Linked DNA regions of Homo sapiens: region 2 is linked to region 1. Evidence: fine-mapped expression QTL. Tissue or cell type: whole blood. Region 1 holds a variant in brackets; the other region holds the start of a gene. All regions are shown on one strand. Distances are between the middles of the regions.

Evidence for each region. PIP is the estimated chance that this variant, and not a neighbour inherited with it, causes the effect. A credible set is the group of variants that fine-mapping cannot tell apart.
Region 2: TMEM252 starts here. The variant in region 1 is the best candidate, but not a certain one, in a credible set for the expression of TMEM252 in whole blood (TOPMed, PIP 0.72).

What each region holds. Positions count from the first base shown.
Region 1 is chr9:68,496,654-68,504,761 of GRCh38, forward strand. PGM5 (phosphoglucomutase 5) reads left to right here. Exons shown (of 11, transcript NM_021965.4): 10 at 2,574-2,708. LOC124902174 (a long non-coding RNA gene) reads right to left here and starts at 4,031. Exons shown (of 2, transcript XR_007061565.1): 1 at 3,367-4,031; 2 at 2,228-2,800. The variant T/A (reference allele first, on the strand shown) is at 5,056.
Region 2 is chr9:68,537,330-68,545,431 of GRCh38, forward strand. It overlaps TMEM252 (transmembrane protein 252), which reads right to left and starts at 3,554. Exons shown (of 2, transcript NM_153237.2): 1 at 3,208-3,554; 2 at 1-164. The coding sequence starts at 3,485. It overlaps TMEM252-DT (TMEM252 divergent transcript), which reads left to right and starts at 3,696. Exons shown (of 5, transcript NR_187592.1): 1 at 3,696-3,901; 2 at 5,049-5,313. LINC01506 (long intergenic non-protein coding RNA 1506) reads right to left here. Exons shown (of 4, transcript NR_109769.1): 4 at 6,212-6,274.

The DNA of each region.
Region 1 (8,108 bases):
TCAAAGACATTATAATTAACCTCAGGGGAAAACAATAACATTATTTCATTTTTAAAAGGCTTAGTTATGAGCAGATAACACATGTTTATAGTTTGTTATGACCTGAATTCTTAAATTTCCCCTCACTGGCCAAAAATGAATCTGAGAATGTTAATTGTTTAATGGGAGGTACTTCAAAGGGTTGAGTCTGGGGGCTCATCAGAAGAGGTAATCCCAAGTGACTTGGAATCTGCAACAGGTGGGTTAGGACCTCATCCTTAGATATTGCTTTAACCAATTTATGGGTAAGCCATAGTTCTGAGCAGAGTCACGTGCTCACGCGCCCCACGTGTAGTGACAACGGGAATGTAGGCTTAAACATAGGTAACAGCTTCAAAAGAGTTTGTAAAAACAAGGCTGTGAATATCAATATAATTGTGAGACTTTTGGGGATTTATTGTAGGTTTGAACGTAACTTGAAATACAGTGATTTGTAGACAGTCAGTAATTGCTTCACTTGCTCCATTTGGAATTTTGTAACTATTCACTTCTCCAGCAGCATAAGGTGGTTAAGAAGACAGTTTCTGTTCGTTGTAAAAAATTACTCCAGGCTTAAGGAGGACAACTATTGTGTCTTTATATTCATATACCCAGGATTTAGCACAGTGCCTAATCCATAAGGGCCACACTAAAATGTTTGCCCAGTGAATAAATCCTGGATAATATCATCCTGTCTGCAAAGCCAGTATTACAGAGTGATTGGTTGCCAGTAGGGGAGATAGCTCCCTTTGGTTACACAAATTGTGGCAGACATTGAACCACTCCAAAAGAAACTAAAGCTATTTATTTGGGGATTGAAACAAAAAAGCCTACACAACTTGAAAAAAGCATAAAGACACTCAGATGGAACCATAGTGTCTCCCAGCAGATATCACCAGATGGGGGTGGGGGTAAATAATTGCAGTCACATATGCAGCAGGTATATATATTTTTACTAATGGCTTATTCTTAAACAGGACTTGAGGCCAGAGAAATTTCAAGGATAAATTGCTTTGGGAGAATGCCTGATATCAATGTCTCCTGAGACATAGAAGTTTTCCAAAATAACAAATCACCAGATATATTATTTTGTTGCCTCCTCTTCCTTCCCCTGGCCCCTGCCAATATGCTTATTTACAAGAGTTACCTTATCAGTTGTCTTAGGAGAACACATTTCCTTCAACAGAAGTCACAGTATCATCTTATGGTCATAATTTTACAATATCCCTGCCTCTACTGAGAAGAGATACATAGCGAATGGAGATGTGCTGAGCCAATGAGGAATTAATCCTAGGCAGCACTAGTAGATGTGGCCACAGCTCTGGCCCCACCCCACTCTGGTGGTCAGGCCAAAAAAGAAGTCAGGTAAGAAGTGTGAAAGGAAATTCAATCTTGGGACCCCCAAACTCATTAAGCCACAGGGAAAATTCAAGCTGGGAACTGGGTCACGCAAACATGCCTCCCCCTTTTGGTTCCTAAATAAGATGGCTACAAGATGAAAAGCTACATGCCTCCCCCATATTTTGCCCACAAGGGAATTCCCAGTGAGCTGCTAGATCTTTACACTAAAGGTGTTTCTATTAAAATTTCACCATGGCAATATAAATTGATAGTTTATAGATGCAGTCACCCCTGGCCCACCAGACACAAATGCATATCTGATTGTTCCCCTGGCCCAGTTTTGTCTGTTATCTTATATAAAATGCAGATTCCCTGCAATTTTCCTCTGCCTCATTTGTCTGTGTCATCTTATGTTAAAAAAAAATGCAGATTCACTGAGCCAGACAAAGGCATGAATGACTGTTTTTCCCTACCCACCTCTTACATGAAAATTGTGTACTTCTCAATATCCTGCCCTTTCCCCTTTAAATTTGGAGCCTTCAAAATCATCTTTGGAGAAAGGCATAGACCTGTCTCCTAGGTGTGCATCCTTAACTTTGGCAAATAAACCTCCTAAAATAATTGAGACTTGTCATTTTTCTCGATTGACAGAAGAAAAGACAGAGCCAAGAGGATGGCAGTGTACTTGGCTACCCCCAGAGCCTAGCTGAGGCTCCAGCCCTGGGCACTTCACTGGAGCATTCCCTTGCCAGCAGAGGAACCTGCAGCCTAACCTCATGCTGGGGTAACCTTAATGTGGGCAATCCGTCTTACTGTAATAGACAAATTGCCTGCTTTCACTTAATCCACAGATTTACAAGGGACAAACTTTGGCCCTAGGAATATTTATTGAATATCATTTCATCCCTGTGACTTCCACTTCTTTCTGATTCCCATATCACCAGCCCAAGAGAACTTGAGTATCTGTTCACAGCTTTGCTCCTCTTTCCCCACATTAACCACAAAGCAACGGAAATAGAATAAAGAGACAAATGGGTAACTCTAAGTAGGTTCATCACATTCATTACATGCCCTGTATCCAGAGCCAATATAAATGGTCTTGATTCTGATTGTGTTGAGGTATAAAAACATGCTGATTTCTGTGGCAGGTATTAATGATTATTACTTGTGTATTCATTTGCTCACTGCTCCATTCTGGATGTTCTTGGTCTCAGGGCCTAAGGATCATTTTCTCGGATGCATCACGGCTCATCTTCCGGCTCAGTTCCTCCAGTGGTGTGCGGGCCACCCTCAGACTGTACGCAGAGAGCTACGAGAGGGATCCCAGCGGCCATGACCAGGAGCCACAGGTACAGAAACAGCTGTGCTCCCAGCAGTGTGTCTCGCAGCTCCTGGCAAATTTAGAGAGCTCCATGGGCCTTTAGTGGGGCTATTTTACCTCCTGGAAAGGTACATGATAATTTCAGCTGGAGGACAAGCTCAGGGCAACTCCAAGCAAGTTTAATTCGTTCATTACAGTGTTTGAAACAGAAAAATTGCTCTCTCGCATCTATTTGTAATCCGTTTAGACCAGCATTTCCCAAACAACTGTCCTCTCTTGACTGTTGAGTGGTTTGTTAATTGGGGTAAAGAAAAAGCACCTTTTATAGACAAGGAAATTTAGCGTTAGAGTCAAACTGGTGAAACTCTCAGAGCCTTGACTACGCTTATGTAACTTTTGAATCTCCAGACATTTGGACCATGACCTTGAGGTGCCAATACAGATGGGCTTTGTCTCTGAGATTGCTACATTGTCCACTCTGAGAGGAGAGGATATAGGTGGCCTTTTAAGTTAAGGAAGCACATTGACAAGGCTAAGCCAGACTGTTTGGCAAAGTCTCCTCATGTTTTCAACAATAAGGCTAATTAAGAACTCAGAAAAATCATAAATAACACAACCATAAGCCTCTCCACTCCCACATTCATTAAAGCTCCAGCCAACATTAATTAATACCAGAAATGACTCACTTTAATGTTGGGTACTTCAAGCTATACAGCTGGCTGCTCCTGTCTTCTTGGTGTCTTCAATCTGGGTTTTGAAGCAAGGTCCTTGATAAGATGATTTTTTCAGATGAAAACATTGGTTCTACCTGCCATACTTCCTTTGTGGAAAAGTAGAGAAACAGAGAAATACTCACTGCTACTCATTTTAGAGGTGCTCAGAATTTCTAGCTATAATTTGCCCTGATGGAGTAAGATACCTGGCAGGCTTTTCTTTCTTTGTCAGTAGTTTAGGGGTTTTTTTGTTTTGTTTTGTTTTGTTTTGTTTTTTTCATGGTCTGTTTCTTTGGAGAGTCTCAAAGAACTTGGCAATAATGGGTGCTACAGATCCTTACACCTGACCCTACAGCCAGAAGATCTGTCTGGAGTAAAATCATCCTAGATGGGACAGGAGAGGCTGGAGGAGGCTGAGAGCTATTCTCAGGGTTACCAAGAGCATGAGTGGGCAAAGCAGGTGGCCAGCATGAAGCCCTTGGCTCTTCCTCTCAGGATCATAGCCTTTCCATGCAGGGGATGGGACACACTCTGCCAAAATAATTGGTTAGTGCGTACATTTCTCCCAAGATAGTACCAAATCATGCAAGAATTTGGGGCTTACCCTGTCTTTCCAAATAAAACACTATTCTACATCTCATGTTGGGGAGGGAGATTAAAGCAGGGGCCTAAAAGTCCAGAGCTACGTACGTGAGGAATGATATTCCTGGCCTCACCAACTCTGACTCACTCTGACTCCGGGCTATTTTTTCCTCAACATTCTTTTCCCTATTTGCACAGGGCAAGTGGCTGTGATATTTGCTTATTTTTATTTACCCTCCGCACTGGACTGAGACCAGGCCATTAGACAAGTGTCACAACAATCCTATACACACAAGAGTCTCTCCCTGAGGCAGTCCACAAAAGCAGTGCTTTTTTTTTTTCTTTTCCCAAGGCTTCCTTTGAAGCTGAAAGTCTCCATCAGCCTACTCTTAGAAGGTCATGTGAGTAAAGGAAACATAAGTCATGCTGGTTTTGGTCCCCATGACTGCACATTTCTCATCCTGTTGGTGGAAAGAATTTGCCACTTTGAAGGGTTGGCGAATCCCTTCACTGACGTTGCTGTTGGAATTTCTGATTTCCCCTCCCTTCTCCTCAGAAGCAAGAGTTTTCCTAGACCTGGCTCGATGGGCCCCCGAGTATGTAGCACATGATCTAGCTAAAAGTTTTACATTAAAATAGAACTCCTTGTTAAAATACCATACATCATTGACTCACCAACTTAAGCCCTATTGCATAATACATTTGAGTCAGGATATAACATAGAGTAAGATTTTAAAAGAAATCTAACCACCTAGGGGAAAGCAAGAAGATTCTCTCAGCAGGCCAACCTGTCTTAATTACTGCTGAACTCTACCTAAGCCTTTAAGTGGGAGCATTTTGAGGGCTCCTTACAGGGTTGCTTTCCAGGACCACCTGCTTCTGCCTTCTAAAAAGCCTTTGATTAACTGTTGAACAGAGATAAAAGTAAGATGTACTCCTGAAGCTGCTAGTGTTATTCCTGATCAGGGCCTGACTGGAAAGACCTGCTTGTGTTGCTTTCTCAGCTACCAAAAGAACCCCTTCCACCTTCTCTAATCTGCAGAGATTCCATTGCTGATCTTGTTCCAATTCAACAGGTAG[T/A]TTTTGATGTTTTACCCACTCTAACCCAATAGCCATCTACACTTAAATTATTTTGCAAGAGAACAGAGAGTTCCCTTCAACTGGCTTATTAATATCTGGCTATTTTACTTTGGCCATGGATAGTTTCTTTTCCAGACATTTTGAACACATGTGAACAGAGCATGTTTTAAGCATTTACACTGATTGCCTTGCAGACATACTCATAACAATCCTAGTGATGCAATTAGGAAAACTTGTGATATAATCTATATGCATTTAGACCATACTCACATGTAGATTTTCCATTTGCATCCTTTTGTAGAACAGTGATTATGCTATTTAAGTTAATATCAATTTCTTATCTACATCAAAAATATTTTTTAAAAATTATATCCATATGTGCCTACGAATTGGTGGTAAGGAGAGGATGGGCCGGGGAGGGCCCTGATGAGATGGGCAGGTTCTTGCCCTGATCCCACTCTGTGTCCTTGGTAAATCAGGAAGGAAAGCTTCCAAAGGCTTGTTGCTGGAAGACTACCTAGTTTTTTAAAATACAAGTTTATTTTAATTTTACCAGCAATCAGTAGGCCTTCAATGAGCCCTCAAACCAGCTGGTAATCATTTGGAAAAAGGAATGAGCCAAAAGGGTTTAAAATCACAGGTAACCAGAAACAGTACAATTGTTTCCGTTTTCTTTCCCATCCAATTTATTAGCAGGGCTGCTATTATTAGCTTCTCGTTGACCTTCTTCCCTTGTCCCTTTCAGCCTGTGGGTGGAGTAGTTAAGGAACAATAGAAGATCCAAAAGGAAAAGGAAGGAGAAGTTTTGTTAAGGGCTAGGAAAATCACAGACTGATAATCAGCCCGTGGCTAATCAACCCTTGGCTTTAGTACTTTCAAGGCAGAATACAGTCACACCCGATCTCACCCCAGTCCTTGGGAGGGGCCTGATTTTCCCCCAGTCTTCCTGAAAATTGAGGAATTTAAGTATTTGTTTGTTTGTTTGTTTGTTTGTTTTTTGAGAGGAAGTCTCACTCTGTGGCCCAGGTTGAAGTGCAGTGGCATGATCTCAGCTCACTGTAACCTCCACCTCTTGGATTCAAGGGATTCTCCTGCCTCAGCCCCCCGAGTAGCGGGGATTACAGGTGACCGCCACCATCCCTGGCTGATTTTGTATTTTTAGTAAGGACAGGGTTTTACCATGTTGGCCAGGCTGGTCTCAAACTCCTGACCTCAAGTGATCCACCCGCCTCGGCCTCCCAAAGTGCTGAGATTACAGGTGTGAACCACCACATCCGGCTTTAAGTATGTATTTTTGATAAACTGTACCTAGAAGGCTTTAACAACTAATACCTAAGAACCAGGTCCCTCATATTTATTCACCTGTCAAACCAAAGGTCATCTGTCATTTTGTTCTACCTGTTCTTAATAAGACTTTGTAATCCAGAAATAAAGTATAGAGCCATTTTGTTTTACATAGGAAGAACATATGATTTGTCATCTAAACCAGAATACAGATGCTCCTAGATTTACAACAGGGTTACACCCCAATAAACCCATCATAAGTTGAAAATGCATTGAATACACCTAGACTGCAGAACATCACAGCTTAGCTTAGCCTACCTTGAACAAACTCAGAACACTTACATTAACCTATGGTTGGGGAAGATCATCTAACACAACCCCATTTTATAATAAAGTGTTGAATATCTCATGAAATGAATACTGTACTGAAAGTGAAAAAATCGGTGTATGGGGACTCACAGTATGGTTTCTACTGAATGTGTATCTCTTTCACACCATCATAAGGTTGAAAAATCATTAAGTCGATCCAGCCAAAGTTGGGGATCTGTACTTTTGTGAGCGAAAGATAATAATTGTAATTATGTTTAGATTGTCCCCAATAAACCAGGAGACATGATTACTCTAGCTACCAGCCTGCATCCTCTCTTAGAACCGCATCTCTTTGGAGATGGCTTTCTAAGAAAACTAGCAATGAAACCTGGAAGGAAAGAGGGAACATACAGAAATGAGAAGAGTCAGCTCAGAGGTTCTCAACCCAGGCAGGCTGCACATCAGAACCACTCAGGCAGCTTGGTGAAAGTACCCATGCTTTGGCCCCAGTCCTAGAGATTCTACTTTAATTGTTTTGAGGTGGGACCTGTAGTTTTTAAAAAATTTCCCAGATGATATTAATTAGACAAGTGCATCTCAAACTAATTACCGGCCAATCACCTTGGGAATGTGTTAAAATGTGGATTCTGACTCAGGTATGAGGAGGGCCAGAGATTTTGCATTTCTAACAAGCTCCCAGGCAATACTGTGCTGCTGGTCCAGGAGCCACCCATTGAATAGCAAAGAGCTAGGTGAACTGTGAAGTGCTAGCAGCAGGACCTTGAATTCTTTAAAACTGTAGAATGAGCAGCACCTGTTTTTAATACCATTCCACACATCGATCTCTGTCTTCTAGACTTCTATTTCTGTTGCTTATTGGATTCCACCTGAATGTCTTATAGACATCACCAACTTGACATGTGCAACACTGATTTCCCGCCAGCCTCCTGTGCACTCCTCCAAAACAAACTCCAGCATGCTGTTTCTTTCATTCTTCTCCATCTCAGTAAATGGCAGTTCCTAAAACATGTTAGACCACCTCATAGCTCTGATAGAATCCTCCCCTCCACCTCATTTAGAGAAGAGCCCAAACCCTTACCATGATCTTGAATGACATACTGGAAATGGCCCCCTTCTCCCTCTGACCTCATTTCCTATCTCTTTTCCTGCTTCTTTCTCCACTCCAACCGCTGTTTGGTGAACATGACGAGAATGCTCTGCCTCGTGTTAGTTACGATGGCTGTTCCCTCTGCCTGAAATGCTTTTCCTTCTGACATCTGCATAGCTTGTCTCCTTACTTCTCAGTAAGGGTGTCCCTGGCCACCTAATATAAAATAGCCCTCACATGCAGGTACTTCTTACTTCCCTACCCTGCTTTGCTTTCTCCATGGCATTTATCCTCATCATATATATATATATTTATTTTATTTTATTATCTGTCTCCACCCAGTAGAATGGAA
Region 2 (8,102 bases), 41 kb after region 1:
TATAAGATGGTGGGGCCTCTGGGTGGGAGTCATTTCCATCCTGGAATTCCAGGCCCGTCTCTGTATATAGAGGTGGAGGAATGCCAGAGGCCTCTCTCTCTGCAGGACAGCTCTGCTTTTCCACCTCAAGGCTCTCTTCATAAGCTGGAGGGTAAAAGTCTGGCCTAGGGGACAAAACAGCATAAACATGCGTGCGTTATTTAGGCATTAATGCCAAAGAGGCAGACGGCTGCCTCTCTCAGCTCAAATTGTGCGAAGCTAAACTGTTAAGAAACATGGATTTTTGAAACAGATGTACTTCTTCCTGGCATCACCAGTTTTTTAAAAATGTGCTGCTCTTCCAAAAGAACCTTTTTATCAGCCACAGGATGCCTGCCTCTAGTCACATTTTTTTCCCAGTGGGTTATGCCAAGCTATTCCTTCTCTATTGCTCATTCACTCATGAAAACAGGGCCATTCAGTGTGAGATCCTTGTCAACATTAGAGGAGGTGGGGGCTTTGGATAGGGAACTTCTCTCTACCGAGTACTTAGTCCATCCACATCCTTGCTCCCTTTCTCGCATGGCATCATCCCCTCAATTGCACTCACTTTCTCTGATCATCACAGCCAACAAAATAATGAATGAAAACCAACTCTGTGCTGATCCCTGAACTATACCAGATGCCATGTCTCTATCCTAACACCCTTTCGAGACTCAGTAGCTAGTTTCAAAGAAAATATACAAACATATTCATTTCTCAAATGATATCAACTGACAACTTTACACAGATTTCAGTTGTAGCCCTTTCTATGCCAGTAGGCTAAAGCAGCCATTCATTCGGGGGCTGATGTACTCATTGGTCATCTTGCCTGGCATTTCTAATTGCTAAATCCTCCTGGCTTCTCCATCATGAATGAATTTGGGGGAAGGGGAGAGGGGAGGAAGAGAGACCGGTGAGCTTGGCTGAGTTGTGTATTTATAGAGTGATCCTTCCAGTGCCTACAGGGAGTGTTTATGGTGTGTAACCACAACAGAACAGGGACTGCCATTTGTAGCCACAACTCCATTCCAAATGTTACCAGGCCCAAAGCCAGTAGCTGAAGAAGCTGTCTACTATAAGGCATAAATCTCAGCCTTCGCTCAGAATAGCCAAGGCTGAGTCACGGGGCACATGTGTAAAGGCATTTTACACAGAAAGGTGAGATGTTCCCTGGAGTGATGTGAAAGGTTCCAGGATGACTGCTGCCTGCCCCAAATCCCAGCTACCTCTCCCAACCCCACCCTCCTTCAACTGCCATCCATATTCCCAGTCCCCTGAATTCCATCATCGGAGACCCATTTGCTTTGATATCTCAACCTGGGTATCCATTTTGAGTGCAAATGCTTTGGAGAAATGTGACTTCCCAGGCTGACTTGCCAGCCATTCTGCGTGGGATAAGCATCTTATTACATGCAGCGAGAAGAGGCAGTAAAATGGGGGTGTTACGATGTCCATAATTTACTTTCAAACATTTCAGTATACTGTAATATTATGCAGTGTTAGTCAATTTAAGCTATATCCTAAAGGCAATCAGTTACATTTATCAGAAATTCACACTCTAGAGGTAGTCCTCTAACATTTATACAAAAAGAAATCATCACTCTAGAGGCATCTTCTACAATCACTTCATTTCTCTTAATTTTTAATCAAACCCAGAAACTCTGCTGGTTAGTATAACATTGGAAATAAGTTTTGGTTTTCATAATTATTATCTTATTAATTAGCATAAAGGATGCCAAAAGTGGATGCTCATGGGTAAGATTACTTATATTCAAGATACATGGAGTAGCTAAAATATTTTAGATACTTTCTACTCTTGCACGAAGAGGGCAAAATAATTATAGTCTTGTAGCCTGTATCTTGAGAATGATGCCTAGGGTGTTATCCCTAAATGGTCCTGTGGCTAGCCAAGAATTAGGAGGTTTCTTGTTGCCTGATACTGACTATAAGATTAACTGAATCTTTTTTTTCTTGTGGTAAAATATATATGACATAAAATTTACTGTTTTTAAGTGTATAGCTCAGTGGCACTAAATACACTCATATTGCTCTACAACCATCACCTTAAAACTCTCTACTCATTAAACAATAGGTCCCCAGTCTCTCCTTCCACCAGCCCCTGGGACCACTGTTCTACTTTCTGTGTCTGTGAATTTGACTACGCTAAGTACTCATGTAAGTGGAATTATACAATATTTGCCCTTTGTAACTGACTTGTTTCACTTAGCATAATGTTTTCAACTTCATCCAAGTGGTGGCATGTGCCAGGATTTCCTTCCTTTTTAAGGCTAATATTCCATTGCATGTATATACCACATTTTGTTTATCTACTCACCTGTTGATGGACATTTGGGCTATTATGAATAAATGTTGCTACAAGCATTGGTGTACAAACATCCATTTGAATCCCTGCTTTCAGTTCCTTTGTGTATAAACTCAGAATGTAGAATTGCCAGATCAAACAGTAATTCAATATTTAATGTATAGAGGAGTCTCCACACTGTTTTCCACAGTGGTTGCACCATTTTAACATTCCCACCAGCAATGCACAGCGTTCCAATTTATTGACATCCTCACCAACACTAGCTGTTTGGTTTTGTTTTTTGATGATAACTATCCTAATGTATGAGATGGCGAGAAAGAATGAATCTTGCCTCTAGAATATTATCACCTTCCCCTGAAGGAATGTTTTATGCAAGGTGAGATCACAACACCTAAAAGGACAGTAAACTGGGACTTTTCTGAGCTCACAGAGATTCCAGGACTCATTTTATGCCTGCTTCTTCATTTGTTGTGTGGCAGAATTTGGTCTGGGACTTGCTTTCCTTAGAACCTCATAGCCAGGTTATGGGAAGTAACTAACCATCACCTGCCACTAATTAATGACAGCTGCCATGATATAACAAAAGAGCCTGGGTTTCTAAATTGGCTTAGGTGGGTTTTCACTGGGGGTGGTGGTAGGGTTTCTCTGAGATGAGTTGCCCCTGCGTCATGGTTTTCCCCAAAGATGGCGCCACTCTTCCTAATAACAACCCCAGAGTAATTCCCTGACAATAAAGCTTTGGTTCTAGACAGACAGCCCATGGGACATGTAAGTCGCTCCATAGTAGGATCAGAAATTACTCAGATCTTACACAACTCAGCCCATCTCAGCCCTTCTTGGTCCCTCTGCCTGTCAGCACGTACCTGTCTACTGTGGCCACGGGCAGGGCCCCATGAGCAAGGTGTTGTCGGAGCATGTGCCTCAACACTCCTTTGCTTTCAGTCACCTGGCGATAGTTGCTCCAGAAAATTCCACTCAGAAGGATCACAAACCCCAGAGGCAGAAGCAAATAGGCCGCAATCAGGCTCCCCTGACAGTCGAATATGGAGCCCCAGGAAATGAAGAAGGCCCCCAGGCAGACCATCAGGAAACCCATCAGGAGGGCAAGAGCACAGAGAATGAGGCCAGTTCTGTTCTGCATCCTTGCACCTTAGGAACCCAGCACCCTGACCCTGCTGCTCCTCTGCTTCCCTGCTTGCTCCAAGAGAATGAGCTCATTAGCCAGCTTGCAGCTTTATATGCTCTGGGACCCACTGGCCTTTGGACAACTAAATGAAACAGGCACTTAGAAGCTATTCATTAACCATTGAAAGTAAGTGTAATATCCTTGGAGAATTAGCCAAAAAACATAGCATTGTATACTGCAGGCAGGAGTGGCTTCGTGTAGCTGTTTTGTTCTTCAGAGTTGGGTGGGACACTCAGCTGTTCCCAGTTATTTGAACGTACAGCCCTCCTTTGATTAAAAGGCGCTGGTCTCTTAATCCCCATGGAGGGCAATTCCCCACTAAAAGCTGGAGAAGTTAGCACTCTTTAAAGAACGATCTTCTTTGAGGTTTGGTAAGAAATCCCTTCCTGATTCCTTCTCCCTTTTTCTGTACTAAAAAGGCATTTCTTCAAGGCTGTTAACATGTTTGTCTTGCCTCCCTCAATGAATCCCCACTTATTGCCCCCACACTATGATACTGGCATAATTCCAAGACAGAAGTTCAGAGTGTGAACTTCGTGGTTCCTGCTCTGTTGACAAGATCGAAAGAGCCTGAGTGGGAGGGAAAGGAGAGTGCTGGAGAAAAGGACTATAATAGACAGAGCCTCGGGAATTTGGGGGGATTTTGGGCCTGTAATTCCTGCAATCTTTCCCCCTTTCATAAAGTACATATGAAATAGAATTCGTTTTAGAGGATGCTGCTAAAAATGTTCCCTGTCCTCTCCTCCACACCTCTGCTCTATGTAGCATTGCCTCAAAAAATCTTTCCAGAACCAGCCTTCTGTTTCCTGGCTGGAATTTGTTTTCTTTAGCTTGACTGTCTTTGATTGTGGATAGCTTATTTCAGACGTGCTTTATGCCCTGGCTCTGCCCTTTTTTATTTGATAATGTGGCATGTCTCTGCCAAAAGTCTCCTTCCCATAGGAACCCTGGGTTGCTTTTACTCAGGATAGCTTATCTTCAGTTCCTCTTTGCTGCTGTTCCACTCCACTACTCCATTACCATTATTTTCCATTTACTTTCCCAATGAGAGCAGCAGTTTTTTGTGGCGTGCCCTAATAATCCCTCATATAACCTTTAGTCTCACACTCACCATCTCCTTAGCTCTACCTTCATGTTAGGGCTGGGAGACACGGATATTAGAGAGGTACACACTATGGATCAAAAACTATATAAGGCACTTCTCCATTCCAACCCTTAGCCTTTACCTTTCTTAGCTTCAATTTCGACCTTGAACTACCTTGATCTTCTAGTCTTGATATTGTCTTTGTAATCTTAAAACAGCTCTTATTCCCTCCTTCCCCAAACTGTGAGATGGAATATTTCTAAGATGATCCCTAAGGATCCCACCTCCTGATATTCATGTCCTTGTGTAAGTAATCCTCTCCCCTGAGTGTAGGCTGGACCTAGTGACTTCATTCTAATCAATAGAATATGGTAACGGTGATCGGAAGTTACTTCCGTGGAGGCTACACAAGATTGTGGTTTTCATCTTTCTAGCAGACTCTCTCTATTGTCCTCTTGGCTTACGCCCTTTGAAGAAGGAAGCTGCCATATTGGAGAGGCCCATGAGGCAAGGAATTGAGGGCAGGTTCTGGCCAACAGTCACTGAAGAACTGAGGCCCTTAGTCCGTCAGCCCATGAGGAACTGCATCCTGTCAATGACCACGTGAGCTTGCAATCAAATCCTCATCCCACTGAGCCTTGAGATGACTCTGCTCCCAAGCATCACCTTGACTCAGTGACCCTGAAGTAGAGGACCCAGGTAAGTCATACTCGGATTCCTGACCCACAGAAACTGTGAGATAAAACGTTTCAGCCAGGGTCCTGGATGCCACAAGATGGCAAGAGCCATAATCAATGAATGCATTATGATCAAATCATTTCATGTTTATGGATGTCACTATTTTAACAAATAAAAGAGGTCAAAAGTTTAAAAAAAGTATATTTTAAAAATATGCTAAGTTTTGTGGCCATTTTTTAGATAGCAGTAGATAACTAAAAAAATTCTCTTAGAACTTTGAAAATCAGAAGAGACAATCAATGTTAAGTATTTATCATAGTACCTGGCACAGAGAGTGCCCTGTGAAGGTTATCTATAATCACCATCACCAATATTGTTATTATCATTGCTGTTACAATTCCAAAAATCTGTGGAAGACCCAGGACCCCCAGCTGAAAGGTCTGCACTAGGAGTTGGGTCCCAGGAACAGGTAGATGGTAAAGCCCCAGGATAATGTTAAGAATCAGGTGATGGAGGAAGAGTACTCTCAATCGGAACTGCCCATCAGACAGTTGGGCTTCTCTGTTTTAGACAAAAATGGAGGCAGAAATTAGACTGGGGATTATGACAGGTCAGGCCTCATTCTTGTGATCACATCAACACATGAGTAAATAAGTTTCTCTATACTTTTTCCTCCTCCATGCCAATAAAGTACACTAGAACCATTGCCTTATAGTTTGTCAGACAGTTCCTTCCCCTCCAGTGCCCTTTGAGGAGGCTCCTGTCATTCCACAGCAGTGTTGTTGTTGTGATGGTGGTGGTGGTATGTTTTTGGTGAGAAATTAGGTATGGAAGAGCAAAATCCAGGAAGTGGCAGGGGGATGGAAGGACTCAGTCCCTTTACATAAAATTTATGTGAAATTAAGAATAGTTCCTGGGCTCAGGGTATTTGAGGAATTTATTTTGGGCATCAAGGGGAAAAGGCTGGGAATATTTGCAGCATCTGTGGGAAGGAGACGAGAAAAGGAAAAAAAATCAATATGGAAATATGAAGTATCACAGGGAACCATATTTCTCCTTCAAAATGACTAAGAAATACTAATGAACACCACACAGTCTATCTGTGTAATAAAACTGTACCTGAAATACCTCCTAAATCTGTACAAATAAAAACAAACAAATTTAAAAGGCAAAAGAGAGAGAAATACTGGTGAAGTTGAGGTTATTTTGTATGTTTATGTTTATTATTAAATATACATTACTAAATAATTATAATTTTTTAAACTGTGACTCTGCTTCAGTTCCTCTTTTTGCCCATCATAAAATTTTATTATGAATAATTAAAACTTTACTCGCTGGTAAGAAATTACCAATGCTTAAAATGGTAATTTTAATTATAAGAAAAATTAGGTTGAAAAGATAGGGTGTTCCCTCGCATTGTCAAATAACATACAATGCCGCAGATAAAAACAGAGATCAGCATCGTTTTTAGGAACTATGCTTCACCCTCAAATTTATTTGTATACCTGGAAATTCAGTTGCCATCATCAAGCTTAGGTTAATTGATTATAAACTGGTTAACACAATTGAGCATCATAGCATCTTGAGACAGTTCTAGTCTGCAAATATAAGCCACCAGTGTACTTTACAGTAATAACACAAAATCAGCATAATACTGTAAGCAAAAGATGCTAAGTTATCATGTGTTATTATGAAGTTATGAAGGTTGTCATTGTTGTGCATACTTTCTTTTTTTCTGAAAATATTTGATCTTTACTTTTTATGTGCTTTGTAATATGTGCTATGAGTGTAGTCATATATATATGGAGATTATATATTAAGCTATATCTATATCAGGGGTATGTGCCCACTCTTTAAACTTTTAAGTTCAGAGGTACATGTGCAGGTTCGTTATATAGGTAAACTTGTGTCGTGGGGGTTTGTTGTACAGATTATTTCATCACCCAGGTATTTAGCCTAGTACCCATTGATTATTTTTCCTGATCCTCTCCCTCCTCCCACCCTCTACCCTCCAATAGGACCCAGTGTCTGTTGGTCCCTTCTTTGTGTCCATGTGTTTTGATCATTTAGCTCCCACTATAAATGGGAACATGCAGTAAATATGTTTTCTGTTCCTGTGTTAGTTTGATGATAATGGCCTCCAGCTCCACCCATATCCGTGCAAAGGACATGATCTTGTTCTTTCTTATGGCTCCATAGTATTCCATGGTGTATATGTACCACATTTTCTTTATCCAGCCTATTATTGATGGGCATTTAGGTTGATTCCATGTCTTTGCTATTGTGAATAGTACTGCAAAGAACATATGTGTGCATGTGTCTTTATGATAGAATGATTTATAGTCCCTTGGGTATATATCCAGTAATGGGATTGCTGGACTGAATGGCGTTTCTGTCTTCAGGTCTTTGAGGAATCACCATATTGTCTTCCGCAATGGCTGAACTAATTTACACTCCCACCAACAGTGTATAAGCATTCCTTTTTCTCCACAACCTTGCCAGTATCTGTTATTTTTGACTTTTAACAATAGCCATTCTGACTGGTGTTAGATCGTATCTCATTGTGGTTTTGATTTGCATTTCTCTAATCATCAGTGATGTTGAGCTTTTTTCATATGATTGTTGGTTGCATGAATGTCTTCTTTCTGCTTCAGTTCTAAACCACATGGATCACTGCTATATAAGCATTATTCCCCTTCTGTGCCTCAAAAATGACCAAGAATCACTAAAACCAATTACTTGTAATTTTAAACAATTTTTATTACTTGCAGTTTCCCTCCTATTTATGTTGCAGTATGCCCTCTTTCCCC